2 separate regions of the Homo sapiens genome follow, and region 1 is linked to region 2. The links come from fine-mapping of genetic effects on gene expression. A gene starts in region 2. The other region holds a variant in brackets. All regions are shown on one strand. Distances are from middle to middle.

Region 1 (8,323 bases), 31 kb after region 2:
TAGTGACTACCTCGTATTAAGTTGAGGACTGATATACGTAAGGCACTGAAAATGGTGCCTGGCACAGAGTAAGCCCTAGTTAAGTGTTCGCTGTTATTTTGTGAAGGGTGATGAATACGCCTCTAAGGAGTGGAGGCCAAATGGCTTCTGTGGTCCAGGAATCCTAAGGACAGCAAGGATCCCCTGTGGCTGGGCTGCTCTGTGATGGCTTCCGGGAGGAGGGAGGTGGCCTGCTGTAGGAAAATGCTGGGTGGAAGAAGGGAGAGAAGGCTGGAGAGGTAGGAAGGAACTGAAGTATCTGAAGTGACAAGGTGGGTGTCTGGACTCGTCGGGTCCCCTTCCATCTCCCTGCTGCCTCCACATGCCAACCCCACTCGTGCACCCTCATCTTCCTATCTCCTCACCCAGGGTCTCTCCCTTCCCACCTCCAGCTTTCCAGAAGGCCTCCAGCATAGTCTATAAGAAAGAGGGGGAACAGGTGGAGTTCTCCTTCCCACTCGCCTTTACAGTTGAAAAGCTGACGGGCAGTGGCGAGCTGTGGTGGCAGGCGGAGAGGGCTTCCTCCTCCAAGTCTTGGATCACCTTTGACCTGAAGAACAAGGAAGTGTCTGTAAAACGGGTTACCCAGGACCCTAAGCTCCAGATGGGCAAGAAGCTCCCGCTCCACCTCACCCTGCCCCAGGCCTTGCCTCAGTATGCTGGCTCTGGAAACCTCACCCTGGCCCTTGAAGCGAAAACAGGAAAGTTGCATCAGGAAGTGAACCTGGTGGTGATGAGAGGTGAGGGGCCAGGCCAGGGAGGGGTGGGCAGGGGAAGGAGTTGGAGGGGCCTGGCCCAGGGCTCCCTCTGAGGCAAGCCAGGCCCCAAGAGGGGATGCCTAGGCCCTGGTCACCTGGATGAAGTGAGGGAGGGCCCTCTGGGTTTGGGGCTGGTTTTGAACTGAGACATCCATGAGCCAGCCTGGGGCTGGCTTCACTGAAGATCCCCAAAGCACTTGGGCTAAGAACCAGGGTTCCAGTTCTTCCTATAACCAACCCTCTGTGACCCTGGCTAAGCCCCCTCCCACTGCAGGCCTGCTTCCTGACCTGTCTAATAAGGATAATGAAATCTGCTCTCTGTGTGATAGTAATGATGATAATGTCAAGCTCCAAATTGAGTTTCTGGCTTCCTTATCTCCTTATCATCATAACGACTCTGCAAATAGTAATGGCTAACACTTGATGCTCAGCACGTGTCGGGCCCCATCCAAACACTTTACATGTATGCCTGCCTTTAGTACTATCTGGGTGCAGGTTGTTAAGTCACTTGCCCAGAGACACACAGCTGCTAAGCAGTGGAGCTGGGATTCAAATCCAATACCACTGGACCCCAAACGCTGTTTTTCCTCGTAGGACTGCATGAAAACCTGCTCTAAAAGGCTAAAAGAAGGTCACCCATATAGAGTATCATTTTAATTGTTCTACTGAATCTCAGGCCTTTGATCTCAGCCTCTCGTTCCTCTGCAGCCACTCAGCTCCAGAAAAATTTGACCTGTGAGGTGTGGGGACCCACCTCCCCTAAGCTGATGCTGAGTTTGAAACTGGAGAACAAGGAGGCAAAGGTCTCGAAGCGGGAGAAGGCGGTGTGGGTGCTGAACCCTGAGGCGGGGATGTGGCAGTGTCTGCTGAGTGACTCGGGACAGGTCCTGCTGGAATCCAACATCAAGGGTAAGGACCCAGGTTCCAAGGCCTCTGCCTCCTGGGCTGCGGGACCTTCCTGTGGTTGGCAGAGACCACCCAGAGTCCCGGCCTCCCAATGCCTGAGTTGGGGGGTTATGGGTATGGTGTCCTCTGTGGTCCCAGGGTGCTTTGGAGGCCCCAAAAGGAGGCATAGAAGTGATGAAGTGAGGTGGGTTGTGGTCCTGGGCTCTAGGCTGCCAGTTGTAATTCTACAAGTTCCCACTCCCTCAGGTCTACAGCCTAGGGATGGGGTCCACCTGACCGAGAGCCCCCCTCCCTGGCTCCTGGCTTTTCTCCAAATCCAGACGCACTTACACACACACTCACACACATACACTCTCACACACATGCACACACTCCCATACACTCTCACACACGCACACACATCACTCACACACTCGCACACACTCATACACACACTACACACACATCCACACTCACACCCACACTCTCACCCCATGTACTCACACCCATGCACTCACACACTGTCACACACTCATACACACACATGTACTCACACATGCATGCACACACACACTTACACATTCACGCACATACTCTCACCCACACACTGTCGTACACGTACACTCACACACTTATACACTCACATCCGCACACGCATTATTCACACATGTGCACACACGCGCGCGCACATGCATGCAGTCACGCACACACATTCATACACGCACACAGGCACACATTCACACACATGCACACACGCACACACATTCACACATGGACTCACACGCGCACACGCGCGCACACACACACATTCACACCATTCACACACGCACACACATGCACACACTCACACATGCACACACACATGCACTCACACACACAGCCCAGGAGCCAGACCACAGCTTCTCTCTCTCCAGAGTGCCCTGGATATGGATATGCCCAAACATAAAACCGATTCCCCAGCACTGGCGGCCTTTGAGAGCCCCCAGGCACCCCTCCCCTCTCCCCCAACCCCAGGGTCAAACCAGAGACTGGCCAGGAGGGATTGCAGGGCAGTCCTCAGTCCCCTGGCCCGTGGAGGAGGGCGGTGCATTGAGCACATTTCTCTCCCTTGCAGTTCTGCCCACATGGTCCACCCCGGTGCAGCCAATGGCCCTGATTGTGCTGGGGGGCGTCGCCGGCCTCCTGCTTTTCATTGGGCTAGGCATCTTCTTCTGTGTCAGGTGCCGGCACCGAAGGGTGAGTAACCCCACACCTGGTCCCCACAAGGCCCTCAAACCCCTGAGTCCTCTACCAGGAGATCCTGTATATGGGAACTGATTTTGGCCCAGCTCCCTCTGCCCACTCGTAAGTTCCCTTGCTGCCCTGTCCCAGATCCCACTCAAGGGAGAGACAGGAAGGAGCAGAGAGTTAATTCCAGGATAGATGGCCTGGGCCATGTAACTGCTTCTCCTGTCGCAGCTTCCCCCACTCCCCCCACCAAGGGGCACCTCCCTTCTGGAGGCCTGGGACCCTCGTGACTCCCTTTCTTGTCCCTGGACAGCGCCAAGCAGAGCGGATGTCTCAGATCAAGAGACTCCTCAGTGAGAAGAAGACCTGCCAGTGTCCTCAGTAAGGATCTGGGAGGAGGGGTTGAGAGAGGGGAAAGGGGGAGGGGGAGGGAGTTAGAGAGGAGGGGGAGGAAGGGGAGCAAAGGGGGGCAGGAAGGGAGGATGGAGAGGAGGAAGGAGTTGAGGAGGAAGAGCTGGGAGGGGTGGAGGTGAGGAGATGGGGGCTAAAGGGGTGTGGTGGAGAGGATAGAGGGGTGGGAAAAGATGGCCAGGAGCTAGAAGGAGGCAGAAGTGGGAGGATGGAGCTGAAGGAGCAGCAGGCCAGGAAAGGCCCTGCTGGAAAGCCACTGGAGCTGTGCTGCGCTGGAAAGGCCATTGGAGGTGCTAGAACGCAAAGGGGTTGCAGTGGGGACAGACCTGCTCCCCTTCTTCTTTGTTCCTGCAGCCGGTTTCAGAAGACATGTAGCCCCATTTGAGGCACGAGGCCAGGCAGATCCCACTTGCAGCCTCCCCAGGTGTCTGCCCCGCGTTTCCTGCCTGCGGACCAGA[T/A]GAATGTAGCAGATCCCCAGCCTCTGGCCTCCTGTTCGCCTCCTCTACAATTTGCCATTGTTTCTCCTGGGTTAGGCCCCGGCTTCACTGGTTGAGTGTTGCTCTCTAGTTTCCAGAGGCTTAATCACACCGTCCTCCACGCCATTTCCTTTTCCTTCAAGCCTAGCCCTTCTCTCATTATTTCTCTCTGACCCTCTCCCCACTGCTCATTTGGATCCCAGGGGAGTGTTCAGGGCCAGCCCTGGCTGGCATGGAGGGTGAGGCTGGGTGTCTGGAAGCATGGAGCATGGGACTGTTCTTTTACAAGACAGGACCCTGGGACCACAGAGGGCAGGAACTTGCACAAAATCACACAGCCAAGCCAGTCAAGGATGGATGCAGATCCAGAGGTTTCTGGCAGCCAGTACCTCCTGCCCCATGCTGCCCGCTTCTCACCCTATGTGGGTGGGACCACAGACTCACATCCTGACCTTGCACAAACAGCCCCTCTGGACACAGCCCCATGTACACGGCCTCAAGGGATGTCTCACATCCTCTGTCTATTTGAGACTTAGAAAAATCCTACAAGGCTGGCAGTGACAGAACTAAGATGATCATCTCCAGTTTATAGACCAGAACCAGAGCTCAGAGAGGCTAGATGATTGATTACCAAGTGCCGGACTAGCAAGTGCTGGAGTCGGGACTAACCCAGGTCCCTTGTCCCAAGTTCCACTGCTGCCTCTTGAATGCAGGGACAAATGCCACACGGCTCTCACCAGTGGCTAGTGGTGGGTACTCAATGTGTACTTTTGGGTTCACAGAAGCACAGCACCCATGGGAAGGGTCCATCTCAGAGAATTTACGAGCAGGGATGAAGGCCTCCCTGTCTAAAATCCCTCCTTCATCCCCCGCTGGTGGCAGAATCTGTTACCAGAGGACAAAGCCTTTGGCTCTTCTAATCAGAGCGCAAGCTGGGAGCACAGGCACTGCAGGAGAGAATGCCCAGTGACCAGTCACTGACCCTGTGCAGAACCTCCTGGAAGCGAGCTTTGCTGGGAGAGGGGGTAGCTAGCCTGAGAGGGAACCCTCTAAGGGACCTCAAAGGTGATTGTGCCAGGCTCTGCGCCTGCCCCACACCCTCCCTTACCCTCCTCCAGACCATTCAGGACACAGGGAAATCAGGGTTACAAATCTTCTTGATCCACTTCTCTCAGGATCCCCTCTCTTCCTACCCTTCCTCACCACTTCCCTCAGTCCCAACTCCTTTTCCCTATTTCCTTCTCCTCCTGTCTTTAAAGCCTGCCTCTTCCAGGAAGACCCCCCTATTGCTGCTGGGGCTCCCCATTTGCTTACTTTGCATTTGTGCCCACTCTCCACCCCTGCTCCCCTGAGCTGAAATAAAAATACAATAAACTTACTATAAAGATGCTCTTCGTGTGTGTGTGTGTGTGTGTGTGTGTGTGTGTGTGTGTGTGAGAGAGAGAGAGAGAGAGAGACCCCTTCTCTGGGGACCAGGAATCTTCTGGTCTTTGGGGTCGGACCCAGAGGAGAGGTTGCTGGGCGTGCCCCAGGAAGGAGATGAAGTTTCCCTGGAGAGGGAAAAATTCTGTGGAGGCTGGCTACCCACCTCCACAACCCACAGGGCTCTGTGTGGGCCTGTGTGTGTGTGAGGCTGAGACTCTGTAATTACATGTGTGTGATATACCGTGGGGGAGAGACTCAGGGTTGTGTGAGCTCTCCTGGTGTATGTGTGTGGCAGAGAAAAAGGACTATGAGAAACTGTAACATGTGTGTGCAAATTGTATCCCCAACATATGTGTTTGTGTTCCAGGAGGAGGAGGCAGAGTGTGTGTGTCTGTGTGCATGCATGCGCCCACATCCTTTTAGCTTGTGCACAACCACCCCCAACTCCACAAGCAGCCCCAGTGTGCACCACAAGCCCCCTCACTCCCAAACCCAAGGCCCAGCCCTCACACAGATACACACAGTGACACACGCTTCCTCCTCCCCGAACAGCTAGCTCCTCAGTCCCCAACAACACCAGCTGCCTCTTGGAGCTTGTGTTCGTGTTGAAAACGGGAAGGGGTGGGGGCAGGACATGAACCATTTCACCAATGAAGCCGGTTCCCAGCCATCCTCCTCACCGCCCTCCCTCTCAGCGCCTTCCTTGCCCCTCCTCCCCGAGTCACCACCGTCCAGTTCCCCACCCTGCACTCGTTTCCCGCCCCCCCCCGCCCCCCACAAAGCTGTCCTGCCTTCCCTCTGGCCTGGGCTCACTGGCAGGACGACCCCGGGAGAGAGGGTCCTGGAGAGTGAGAGGGGCAGAGACCGAGTGAGCCGTGGGCTGAGCCTGGGAGGCCGGGACTGAGGGGGAGGAGGGAGGCCCGGGGGAAGGGAGGGAGGGAGAGAGGGAAGGAGGGAGGAGGGCGGGCGAGCTGGAGCCGGCAGGCAGCGGGAGCCCGAGAGAGCCGCGTCGGGAGTGCGGTCTCCATGGCAGTGCTGGGCGCAGCCGGAGAGAGGTAAGACGACCCCTGCCTGCCCCGTCCCCTGTGTTGCCTCCCTTTCCCCCTCAAGCTGCCTCCTCTCCCCTAGGCCGGCCCCTCCTCCCCAGCCACCTGCTGTTTCTGCCCTGGAGAACCTGGAGGGGGACAGGAGGGAGGAGCCGCCTGACCTTACCCCTTCACCCCAAAGGGCGAGGGACCCCGTCGGCCAGGGAACCTCCCAGATCCCCCTTCCCACCTTCCTCTGATCTCTCCCTGTCCTTCACCTCCCTCTCTCTGTCCTTCACATCTTTCCTGCCTCCTTCCCTCTCTGACTCCCTATCTCTTTCATCCTGAGCCCACCAGCTGGGCCTGGGTGGAGGTGGGTGGGAAGGGGTCCAGGGCTGTAGGAGAGGACACTGGGGGCTGCTCTTGGCCAAGTCCCTCCACCTCCCTCTGGCTGGCCATTGCCATGGCAACTAGGGTGTACTGGGCTCCGGAGGGAAGCCAAGGGTGGGGGTGGACCAGGACCTCTTGGGGAAAGCAAGGGTCTGAGCTGCTTCCATGGGAAACAGACCCTTTCACTGCTGTGCCCCATTTTTACCCCACTTACCCTAAAGCCATTATGTGCTTCCTTACAGCCCCACTCTGTTCAGGGTTTCACCCGATTCCCTTACCCCCCTTCCCAGGGCTCACTGAAGCTCAGCATCACGCACTAAAACTGGGACCATCCTTCCTCCCATGAGAGGGAAACTGAGGCTCTGGGCCAGGGAGGAAGAGTCAAGGTCTCCCCACGGGGAGTCAGCACCTTATTGAACATTTGGCTTTTCTTCTCAGCCTCCTATTCCCTGCTCCCTCCCTCCCTCCCTCCTCCAGTCCCTCCTCCCTCCAAAGCCTCCTCTCCAGGGGGTTTGAGCTTTTCCTGCTATTTTCAGATACTACCACTTTGCCCCCTCTTTCTCTTCTGCTCAAACTCTCCTCCTTCTCCCTAGTTCCCCCTCTTTCCATTTCTGGATGCTTCTGATGTCAGCGGTTTCCCCGCCTTCAGGTTCCCTAGCACCCCCTTCGGTCCCAGACTCCTTTCTCCCATTTTCCCAGATATGGGTAGCTGGAGGGTGATCACCCAGGTTTGGGGAAGTAGGGGCTAAGCACCAAGACCCCTGCATCCAGGAGACCGGCAGGTAGGGGAGGAAGGCTGTGATGCCATATCCCAGTTCACTGTGAACCCTCAAGAGGAAACCAGTCTTGTGTCTCCCATCAGTAGTTCTGAAGAGACATTTAGGGACTTGAAGATAGGGGTGGAGTAGTGCTGAGCAGGGGATGTTCTAAGAAGGAACCTGGGAGTTCCAGCGGGAGGAGGAAGGGCTAAAGGAGACAGGGAGGTGGGAATACCTTCTTCCCTAGAGGTCTGGAAGAGTGCGGCTCTCATCTGTGTGGGGTGTTTAGCTGTCAGAGTTAAGGCAAAGGAATGTTCTGAATGACCCTCAGGGCCTTAGTAATCAGTCATGCCTATAGTTTCAAGAAAGGGGGCACAGGAGGCTGATTGGAGACCAGCCCAGGCCCTACCTTTGCCCTCTCCCTCCCACATCTCATCTTTCCCTTGCAGCCTGTCCAGGGGGCTGAGCCCCACCCCCAAATCCCTGGGGCATCCAGAAGATTCCTGACTGGTCAAGAACCAGAGGCAAAAGAGACCTGGAAGTCCCAGCATGGGGACCAGAACCCCCCAGCCAGCCTCATAGTTGGGAAAGTAGCCAGCTTGCCTGCCCCATCAATTGCAGGGATGCTTAAGGAAGGCCCCGCCCAGTATGAAAGCTGAGGATTGCCTCTGCTGACCCTCAGTCTCCTCCCCTGCCCTCTACATCTGCCCTCAGCTGGGTCCATCATGCAATGCTGAGCACTGGGGTGAGCCTGGGGGCAGCCTGCCTGCTGACAGGGCGAGGATTGTGGGGATCATGGGAGTGTTTGTGAGTGGGGCTCCTGGGTGAGACCTAGCCCCCACCCCCACAGAGCTCAAGGGGGTGGGGGGCTGAGGATAGGATGGCTCGGGGCGGGGCGGGGGCAGAGGAGGCCTCCCTGCGCTCCAACG
Region 2 (8,323 bases):
GCCTGTAATCCCAGCACTTTGGGAGGCTGAGGTGGGTGGATTGCTTGAACCTAGGAGTTTGAGATCAGCCTGGGAAGCATAGCAAAACCCCATCTCTAGGGGAAAAAAAAATTTAGCTGGGTACAGTGGCACATGCCTGTAGTTCCAGCTACTTGAGAGGCTAAGGCGGGAGGATAGATTGAGCCCTGGAGGTTGAGGCTGCAGTGAGCTGTGACCGTGCCACTGCACTGCAGCCTGGGTGACAGAACGAGACCTTGTCTAAGAAAACAAAAAACTCTTCAAGCCTCAGTTTCCTCATCTGTATGGCCTGGACAATAATACCTATGTCTTATCACTCTCATGAGGATTAAATAAAAGATACAACCACATAAAGCACACAACAATGCCAAATGTTTACTATAAACTCACCCTCTCTCTTCCTTTTTTCTTTTCCTGTTTGGAAACCCCAGAGAGAGAGCCAGGTTCTCAGGACCGTTGACTTCCAGGCCACAGACTCACAGAGCTGCAAGTTCTCACACCGTCCATCGGGTCTGGAATCTGCAAACCGGTGGGCCCAAAGCTAGAGCCAGCCCTTGGAATGCTCTGTTTGCTCTACCCAGTGTCACGACAAGTTGAAAAAATTTGTTACCAATATTAAAATCAGGAGGTATTACATAAATGTCTGGTTTTCACCTTCTCTAGAAATTTTGGCAGAGCAGGCAACTCTAGGCTCACATGCCAGTATAGCCTCTACGGTCAACTCAGACAGCTATGCAGGGAATGGCTGCCCTTAACTAGCTGAGGCAAGTACTCTCTGGTTTCCCCCAGTCCCTACCCTTCCCTTTTGGTCACCACCAGTGTACCTTTCTCATTTGCACTACCTAGGGGGCTCCTGTAAGCATTTACATTTGTAGCCCTGCTCTCCTGCTCTTGTCCATACTTCTCTATTTATCCATTCAAAAATTATTTGGCCTGGTGCAGTGGCTCACGCCTATAATCCCAGCACTTTGGGAGGCAGAGGCAGGAGAATCACTTGAGGTCAGGAGTTCGAGACCAGCCTGGCCAACATGGTGAAACCCTGTCTGTACTAAAAATACAAAAATTAGCCAGGCTTGGTGGCGCACGCCTGTAATCCCAGATACTCGGGAGTCTGAGGCAGGAGATTCGCTTGAACCTGGGAGGCGGAGGTTGCAGTGAGCCGAGATCACACCACTGCACTCGAGCCTCGGCGACAGAGCAAGACTCTGTTTCCAAAAAAAAAAGAAAAGAAAAAAGAAAAAAAAATATTATTCAATAGCCAGGAGTTGCAGGGAGTTAGAATGAGGAGTCAGTATTTAATGGGTACAGAGTTTCATTTGGGGAAGATGAAAAATTTCTAGATGGTTACACAACCATGTGAGTGTACTCAGTCCCACAGAGCAGTACATTAAAAAATGCCTAAAATGGCCGGGTGTGGTGACTCACACCTGTAATCCCAACACTTTGGGAGGCCAAGGTGAGCAGATCACTTGAGGTCAGGAATTCGAGACCAGCCTGGCCAACATGGTGAAACCCCGTCTTTACTAAAAATACAAAAATTAGCCAGGCGTGGTGGCGGGCACCTGTAGTCCCAGCTACTCGGGAGGCTGAGGCTGGAGAATCGCTTGAACCCAGGAGGTGGAGGTTGCAGTGAACCTAGATTGTGCCACTGCACTCCAGCCTGGGGGACAGAGTAAGACTCCGTCTTGGAAAAAAAAAAAAAAAAAGCTTAAAATGGAAAATCTTATGTTGCGTGTATTTTACCGCAATAAATTTAATATCAATAAAATTTAATATATTAGGAAAATATTAAACAAGCATTAAGGGTCTTCCAGGGCCAAGGCATCTGTGAGGGTGCTGGGAACATAGTGCTAACTAAGACAGACACGGTCACCGCTCTGGCCTGTGAGCTAGACACTAAGCAGCAAATAACTTCATTGCAACTGGAAAATTGCTACGAAGGGAGAAGCACAGGGGACTGGGAGATCTTATCACAAGGAAAACTGATTTCAACTGAGGAACCTGAGTATCCTCTGAGACTCTGGGGAGGAAGTCCTGTGCAGGAGAATGGTAGAGCAACAAAATATAAACAGCCCCAATCTTGGCCCTGGAGGACGGCGTGCTGCTCCCTCTCTTCTGCACCACCCACCTCCACACTTCCTACATGTGAAAAATAACTTCAATCTTGTTGAAGCCTCTATTATTTTGGGTTTTCTTTTGCTTGTAGCAGAACCCAGTGCTTACCGATAGACAATTCTCCCAGTTGAAAGAAGGTTCTTTTGTGATAAGATCTCCCAGCACCTTGTGCTTTTTCCTTTGTAGCGCTTGTCGAATTGTAATGAAGTTGTTCGTTGTTTAGTGTCTATGTCATAAGCTGGAGTGGTGACCATATCTGTCTTCTTCAACATCACATCCCCAGCTACCTAGCAGAGTGCCTTGGGCTGGTACACGCTTAACTACGTACATGAATGAATGGAGCAGGGCTCAAAACATCAATGCCTACCAGAGCCTGCCAGGTAATGTAAATGAGAAAAGCAGACTGGCTGTGAACAATAGGGAGGGTGTTTGCTTTCTAGTCTGAAGGAAGAAGGCCTGAGGAGGATACATTTTCCCCACTTTGAGGAGCAACTCTGAGGTTGCACCTAATACTTTCACTTCTATCTATTAACCAAAATTGAGTCACTTGGACACATCCAGCTGTGAGGGAGGCTGGGAAGTATATTTTAAATCTGGGTAGCTAAGAGCTCAGCTAAAAATTGAGGGTTCTATTACCAAGAAGGAGAAAATAGACTTTGGGGACAGCTAAAGCGATAGCTGAGATCTGAAGAATGAATAAAAATTACCTAGATCAGTGGTTCTCAGAGTGAAGTGTGGCCTGCAGACCCTTGGGAGTCCCTGAGACCCTTTCAGGGGATCTTCAAGGTCAAGCTATTTTCATAAAAAAATACAGGATGTTATTTTCCTTTGTCACTATGTTGACATTGCAATAATGTTGCAAAAACAATCTGGATAAAACTGCTGCCTTAGCATAAATGAAGGCAGTGGTGCCAAACCATATGATAGTCATTGCATTCTTCACTGCCAGGTACTTACAGTAAAAAAAGAAAAAAAATTAATGCCACTTTTACTTAAGAATGCCCTTAATGAGGCCGGGCGCAGTGGCTCGTGCCTGTAATCCCAGCACTTTGGGAGGCCGAAGCGGGCAGATCAGGATCACCTGAGGTCAGGAGTTCAAGACCAGCCTGGCCAACGAGTGAAACCCTGTCTCTACAAAAATACAAAAATTAGCCAGGCATGTTGGCGGGTGCCTGTAATCCCAGCTACTCGGGAGGCTGAGGCAGGAGAATGGCTTGAATCCAGGAGGCGGAGGTTGTAGTAAGCCGAAATCATGCTGCTGCACTTCAGCCTGGATGACAAAGCAAGACTCTGTCTCAAAAAAAAAAAAAAAAAAAAGAGAGATCAAGACCATCCTGGGCAACATGGTGAAACCCCATCTCTACTAAAGATACAAAAATTAGCTGGGCATTGTGGCGCATGCCTGTAGCCCCAGCTACTTGGGAGGCTGAGGCAGGAGAATTGCTTGAACCCGGGAGGCAGAGGTTGCAGTGAGCCAAGATCACGCCACTGCACTCTAGCCTGGGCAACAGAGTGAGACTCCCTCTCAAAAAAAAAAAAAAAAAAAAATATATATATATATATATATAGAATGCCTTTAATGAAGCAGTAAATACTAATTTTATTAAATCTCAACCCTTGAGTACGGTGTGTCATGAAATGAGAAGTAGCACACAGTACTATATGCTACAGATGAAGTACAATGCTGTCAAATAGGGGTACTTGTGTTAATTGTTGGAGTCGCAAGCTGAACTAGAGTTTTCTTTTCTTTTCTTTTCTTTTCTTCTTTTCAAGACAGGTTCTCACTCTGTCACTCAGGCTAGAGTGCAGTGGTGCAATCACGGTTCACTGCAGCCTCAACTTCCTGGGCTCAAGCGATCCCCCCACCTCGGCCTCCTAAAATGCTGGGATTATAGGCATGAGCCACCACTCCCAGCCCCACTTTTTTCAGACTGGAAAACGCACACTCACATGTGCATCTTTAAATGATCACTTGGGCTGTGGTATGGAGAATGGCGACCAGTGAGGAGGCAGGAGCTGTTGTCCGAGCAAGGGATGATATTGGCATCTTGGATTGGCATGGTGGCAGTAGTGGTAGTGCAGAGTGACTTGGGTAGATTTTGGAGCCATTTAGAAGGTAACATCCACAGGAACTGGTAAATAAATACGTGGGAGAAGTTGGGTGAAGGGGGTGTCAAAGATTACACCCAATTTATTTTGCTTGGGCAAGTTGGTGGATGGTGAGCCCCTCACTGAGTGAGAAGCCTGGAGAAGCAGGTTTGGAGGGTGGTAGTATGCAGGTGGTATGCATAGTTGGGGATGTGTGTTGAGTTTGCTATGTCCGGTGAGCTTCCCAGTGGAGATGTCCAATGGGCAGACGGATACTCACATAGAGAGTTCATGGTAGATTCGGGCTAGAGGAAAGCACCTGAGGCCTGGCCAGAGACGCCTAGAGGAACAGAGCCTGGTTAACAGTCACTCCTGGTGTCTCAGATATTCTCTGCTCAGCCCACGCCCTCTCTTCCACACTGGGCCACCTATAAAGCCTCCACAGATACCCCTGGGGCACCCACTGGACACATGCCCTCAGGGCCCCAGAGCAAGGAGCTGTTTGTGGGCTTACCACTGCTGTTCCCATATGCCCCCAACTGCCTCCCACTTCTTTCCCCACAGCCTGGTCAGACATGGCGCTACCACTAATGGAATCTTTCTTGCCATCTTTTTCTTGCCGCTTAACAGTGGCAGTGACAGTTTGACTCCTGATTTAAGCCTGATTCTGCTTAACTTTTTCCCTTGACTTTGGCATTTTCACTTTGACATGTTCCCTGAGAGCCTGGGGGGTGGGGAACCCAGCTCCAGCTGGTGACGTTTGGGGCCGGCCCAGGCCTAGGGTGTGGAGGAGCCTTGCCATCGGGCTTCCTGTCTCTCTTCATTTAAGCACGACTCTGCAGAAGGAACAAAGCACCCTCCCCACTGGGCTCCTGGTTGCAGAGCTCCAAGTCCTCACACAGATACGCCTGTTTGAGAAGCAGCGGGCAAGAAAGACGCAAGCCCAGAGGTAAGGTGGTCAGACTCGGCTTCCTTCCCCGGAGCTGAGAGGGAGGGGAACGTGGGGCAGATGCACAGGAATGTGCTCTGCCCAGTTGTCTGCCCACAGCTCTGGCCACCTTCTCTTGCATTTCTCTTGGAACTGGTCATGAGCAGCGATTTCCCACTGGAACTGTGAGCTTCCAGAGGTCAGAGACTGTGCTAGACTCCTCTCTGCAGCCCCAGCGTGCACAGCTCAGTGTCCAGAGCAATGGGTGCTCCTTAGAGGAGTAGTGACCTAAATAGCAAGATCAGAGAGGGAGTGAAGACTGGAGACTATCCCAGGCTGGGAAAGGCGTGGAAGGCAACTAGTCGTGGGCAGTTGAGGGGAGAAGACTGGAAGAGGGGAAAAGAGGAGAAAAAGAGTGAAGAAGGGGAGGGAAAAAATTAGAAAGAATAAATAAATATAAGGTGGGAGGAAACCTATAAAAAAGAAATGATGAGGAAAAACATAAAAACAAGAAAAAGAGCAAAAGAAGTGGAATCTAGTCTAGAGAAAATTCTTGCAAAACCAATTTTCCTTAACGGGACAATCTCCAAAAATTGACACCAAATATCATACTTGCAGCATTTCATAAGTCGCATGATCTATGTAATAGTCTCTTTTAACTACCTTTTGTGTTTCTGTGTGTATTTTTAAATTTTTGTCTGCTTCTTTGCTCTTTTAAGATTTTTGAACAATGTCTAAAGGCACTTCTACTCTAGTTAGCTTTAAAATGATTCATGAAATAGGAAAGCTAAAATTCTCAGAAAGTGTTGAAACTGAGCTTTTGCGTATGAATTGCCCTAAAAGTTGCAGATACATATCTTTAGATAAATATGTCATTTAAGAAACGGATTCGAAAAGAATTGGTGGTAGGGGTCTCATGAGGCCGGGAGAGTTACAGAAGGATGTGCAGCCCCTCCTGGGCCTGGCAGGGTGTGAGGGAGAGTGAGGACTCACTGTCCCTCCTGAAGGGAAGCCCTGTGCCATCTCAGCCTTTCCGCCCTCAGACCTTTCCAGCCCCTGAGACCTCATGGCCTTGAAGCCGTGCTATCCCCAGTGTCCTCTGCTTTCCCCTCATAGGCTTCTTCTGGGAGAGAGGTTTCCTGGGGTACGTTCTGATCCCTCAAAACGGAAAGGCCCTGTTCTCAATAATTCAAAGATTTCACTCTGAGTGGGATAGTGCTTCCTGAATGCCCTGCTCTTGTGGTGGACATTTTTATCGGGGCAAGGCTAAGAGCAGGGCCTGATGGGGGAAGTCACTGCTACTTCACATTTTGACCAATAATTCCTTGTGCTGTATCAGATGCTGTAGGCTGATACAAAATGGCCGCCGCCCTCAAAGTCAGATGAAAGAGCCCCTGAGGACAGCGTTAGAGACACTCGGGAGATGATTTCCCTCTTTCAATGTGGGAGCACTTACATAGGAGAGGTCTATATCTAGATAAAAACTCCTCCCACCACTGGTGCTAGACAGAGCTTGGGGGCAGCCCTAGGCTCTGACCCTGGCCGTAATGGCGGGGTGGTGCTGAGGGCAATTGGCTAGACCAATTGTCTTGCACGTTTTATTTTTTATTATTATTTTTGAGACGGAGTCTCGCTCTCTTGCCCAGGCTGGAGTGCAATGACGTGATCTCCACTCACTGCAGCCTCCACCTCCTGGGTTCAAGCGATTCTCCTGCCTCAGCCTCTTGAGTAGCTGGGATTACAGGAGCCCAACACCACGCCCGGCTACTTTTTGTATTTTTAGTAGAGACCAGGTTTCACTATGTTGGACAGGCTGGCCTCAAACTCCTGGCCTCAAATGATCCGCCCGCCTTGGCCTCCCAAAGTGCTGGCATTACAGACGTGAGCCACCATACTGGGCCAGTCTTGCACATTTTAGACACTCAATAAATGTTTGTTGAATGAAATACCTGTGATGGGCCGGGCGTGGTGGCCCACACCAGTAATCCCAGCCCTTTGAGAGGCCGAGGCAGGAGGATGGCTTGAACCTGGGAGTTTGAGACCAGCCTGGGCAACATGGTGAAACCCCCATCTCTACAAACCCCACAAAAGTTAGCTGGGCATGGTAGTGTGTGCCTGTGGTTCCAGCTACTTGGGAAGCTGAGGTGGGAGGATTGCTTGAGCCTGGGAGACGGAGGCTGCAGTGAGGCCTGACTGTGCCACTGCACTCCAGCCTGGGCGAGAGTGAGGCCCTGTCTCAAAATAACTTTGATGAAGGTGGGGAATCAGAAGTAGGTGGGCAGGGGTCTGGGTTTGCAAGGCTCTGAGTTTGAGCTCTGTTCTGTACCTTTGAGGGGATGAGGGAAGGAGGGTGGGCACGGTTCCCCCGATGTGGGTGTCTGAGGCGAAGAAGAGGATGGCGGAGGTTGCAGCCACCAACCACAAGAGTTCCTTAGAGGGGTCACAGTCTCTAGGAAGTTTATAGGAAGCTAGTCAGCAGTAGAGAGGGTGAACGCGGTGGGGCACATCCCGCGGCTGGGCTTGAGTGGGCTGCTTGGGGGTTATGGGGAGAAGATAAAAGTGCCTGTGGGACCACAGACTCTCGCTGTGGTGGAGCTGGGCCCTCTTACCCTCCCAAGCCTCGCCCCTCATCCCATCCCTGGGGGCCAGGGGTGAGGGCGGCAGGAACCTCAAGGCTCTGAGAAAGTGCGTGGTGTGTGTTGCCATTTTGGTCTCTTCTCTTTCTCAGTCTCTCTTTGCCTCACTTTGGATCTATGCTCTGTGCATCTGTCTTGCTTCTCAGAATTTCTTCTTTTCCTCTTTTTTTGTACTACCCTGCGCTTTGTGTGTGATTGTGGATTGTGTGTGCATAGCTGTTGCTTTAACAAGCTGCTCCAGGTCTCTCTCTCCCACATCTTTCCCTCCCCTCCTCCCTTGAGGCTCTGTGCATTCTGGGGAACTCTGTCCATTTCCCTTTGTCCATGTGTCCCTCCCACCCTGCAGCCGGCTCCCTCACATCCACCCTGGGCTGCAGGCGTGCTCGGCAGGCTCCCCACAGATCAAAGCTTGTCCAGGGTCTGCATTGCTGCCAAAGGCCAGGAGGACTGTGTACAGACCGGAAGGAGCTAGAGCTTAGTGGCAGCCTGAGAGGGGAAGCTGAAAAAGGAGAAGAGGCAAGGGGCATTCCAGGGGAGC

What was found.
Region 1: its variant is fine-mapped to the expression of CD4 in whole blood (TOPMed, PIP above 0.99).

The regions. Positions count from the first base shown.
Region 1 is chr12:6,815,625-6,823,947 of GRCh38, forward strand. It overlaps CD4 (CD4 molecule), which reads left to right. Exons shown (of 10, transcript NM_000616.5): 6 at 432-779; 7 at 1,506-1,706; 8 at 2,797-2,918; 9 at 3,223-3,290; 10 at 3,675-5,175. The coding sequence ends at 3,705. GPR162 (G protein-coupled receptor 162) reads left to right here and starts at 6,197. Exons shown (of 5, transcript NM_019858.2): 1 at 6,197-6,276; 2 at 7,844-8,323. The coding sequence starts at 8,275. RefSeq lists enhancers at 3,236-3,736, 3,737-4,237, 5,208-6,180. The variant T/A (reference allele first, on the strand shown) is at 3,779.
Region 2 is chr12:6,784,493-6,792,815 of GRCh38, forward strand. It overlaps CD4 (CD4 molecule), which reads left to right and starts at 5,036. Exons shown (of 10, transcript NM_000616.5): 1 at 5,036-5,170. RefSeq lists a silencer at 2,291-2,585 and enhancers at 4,520-5,077, 4,893-4,942, 8,058-8,107.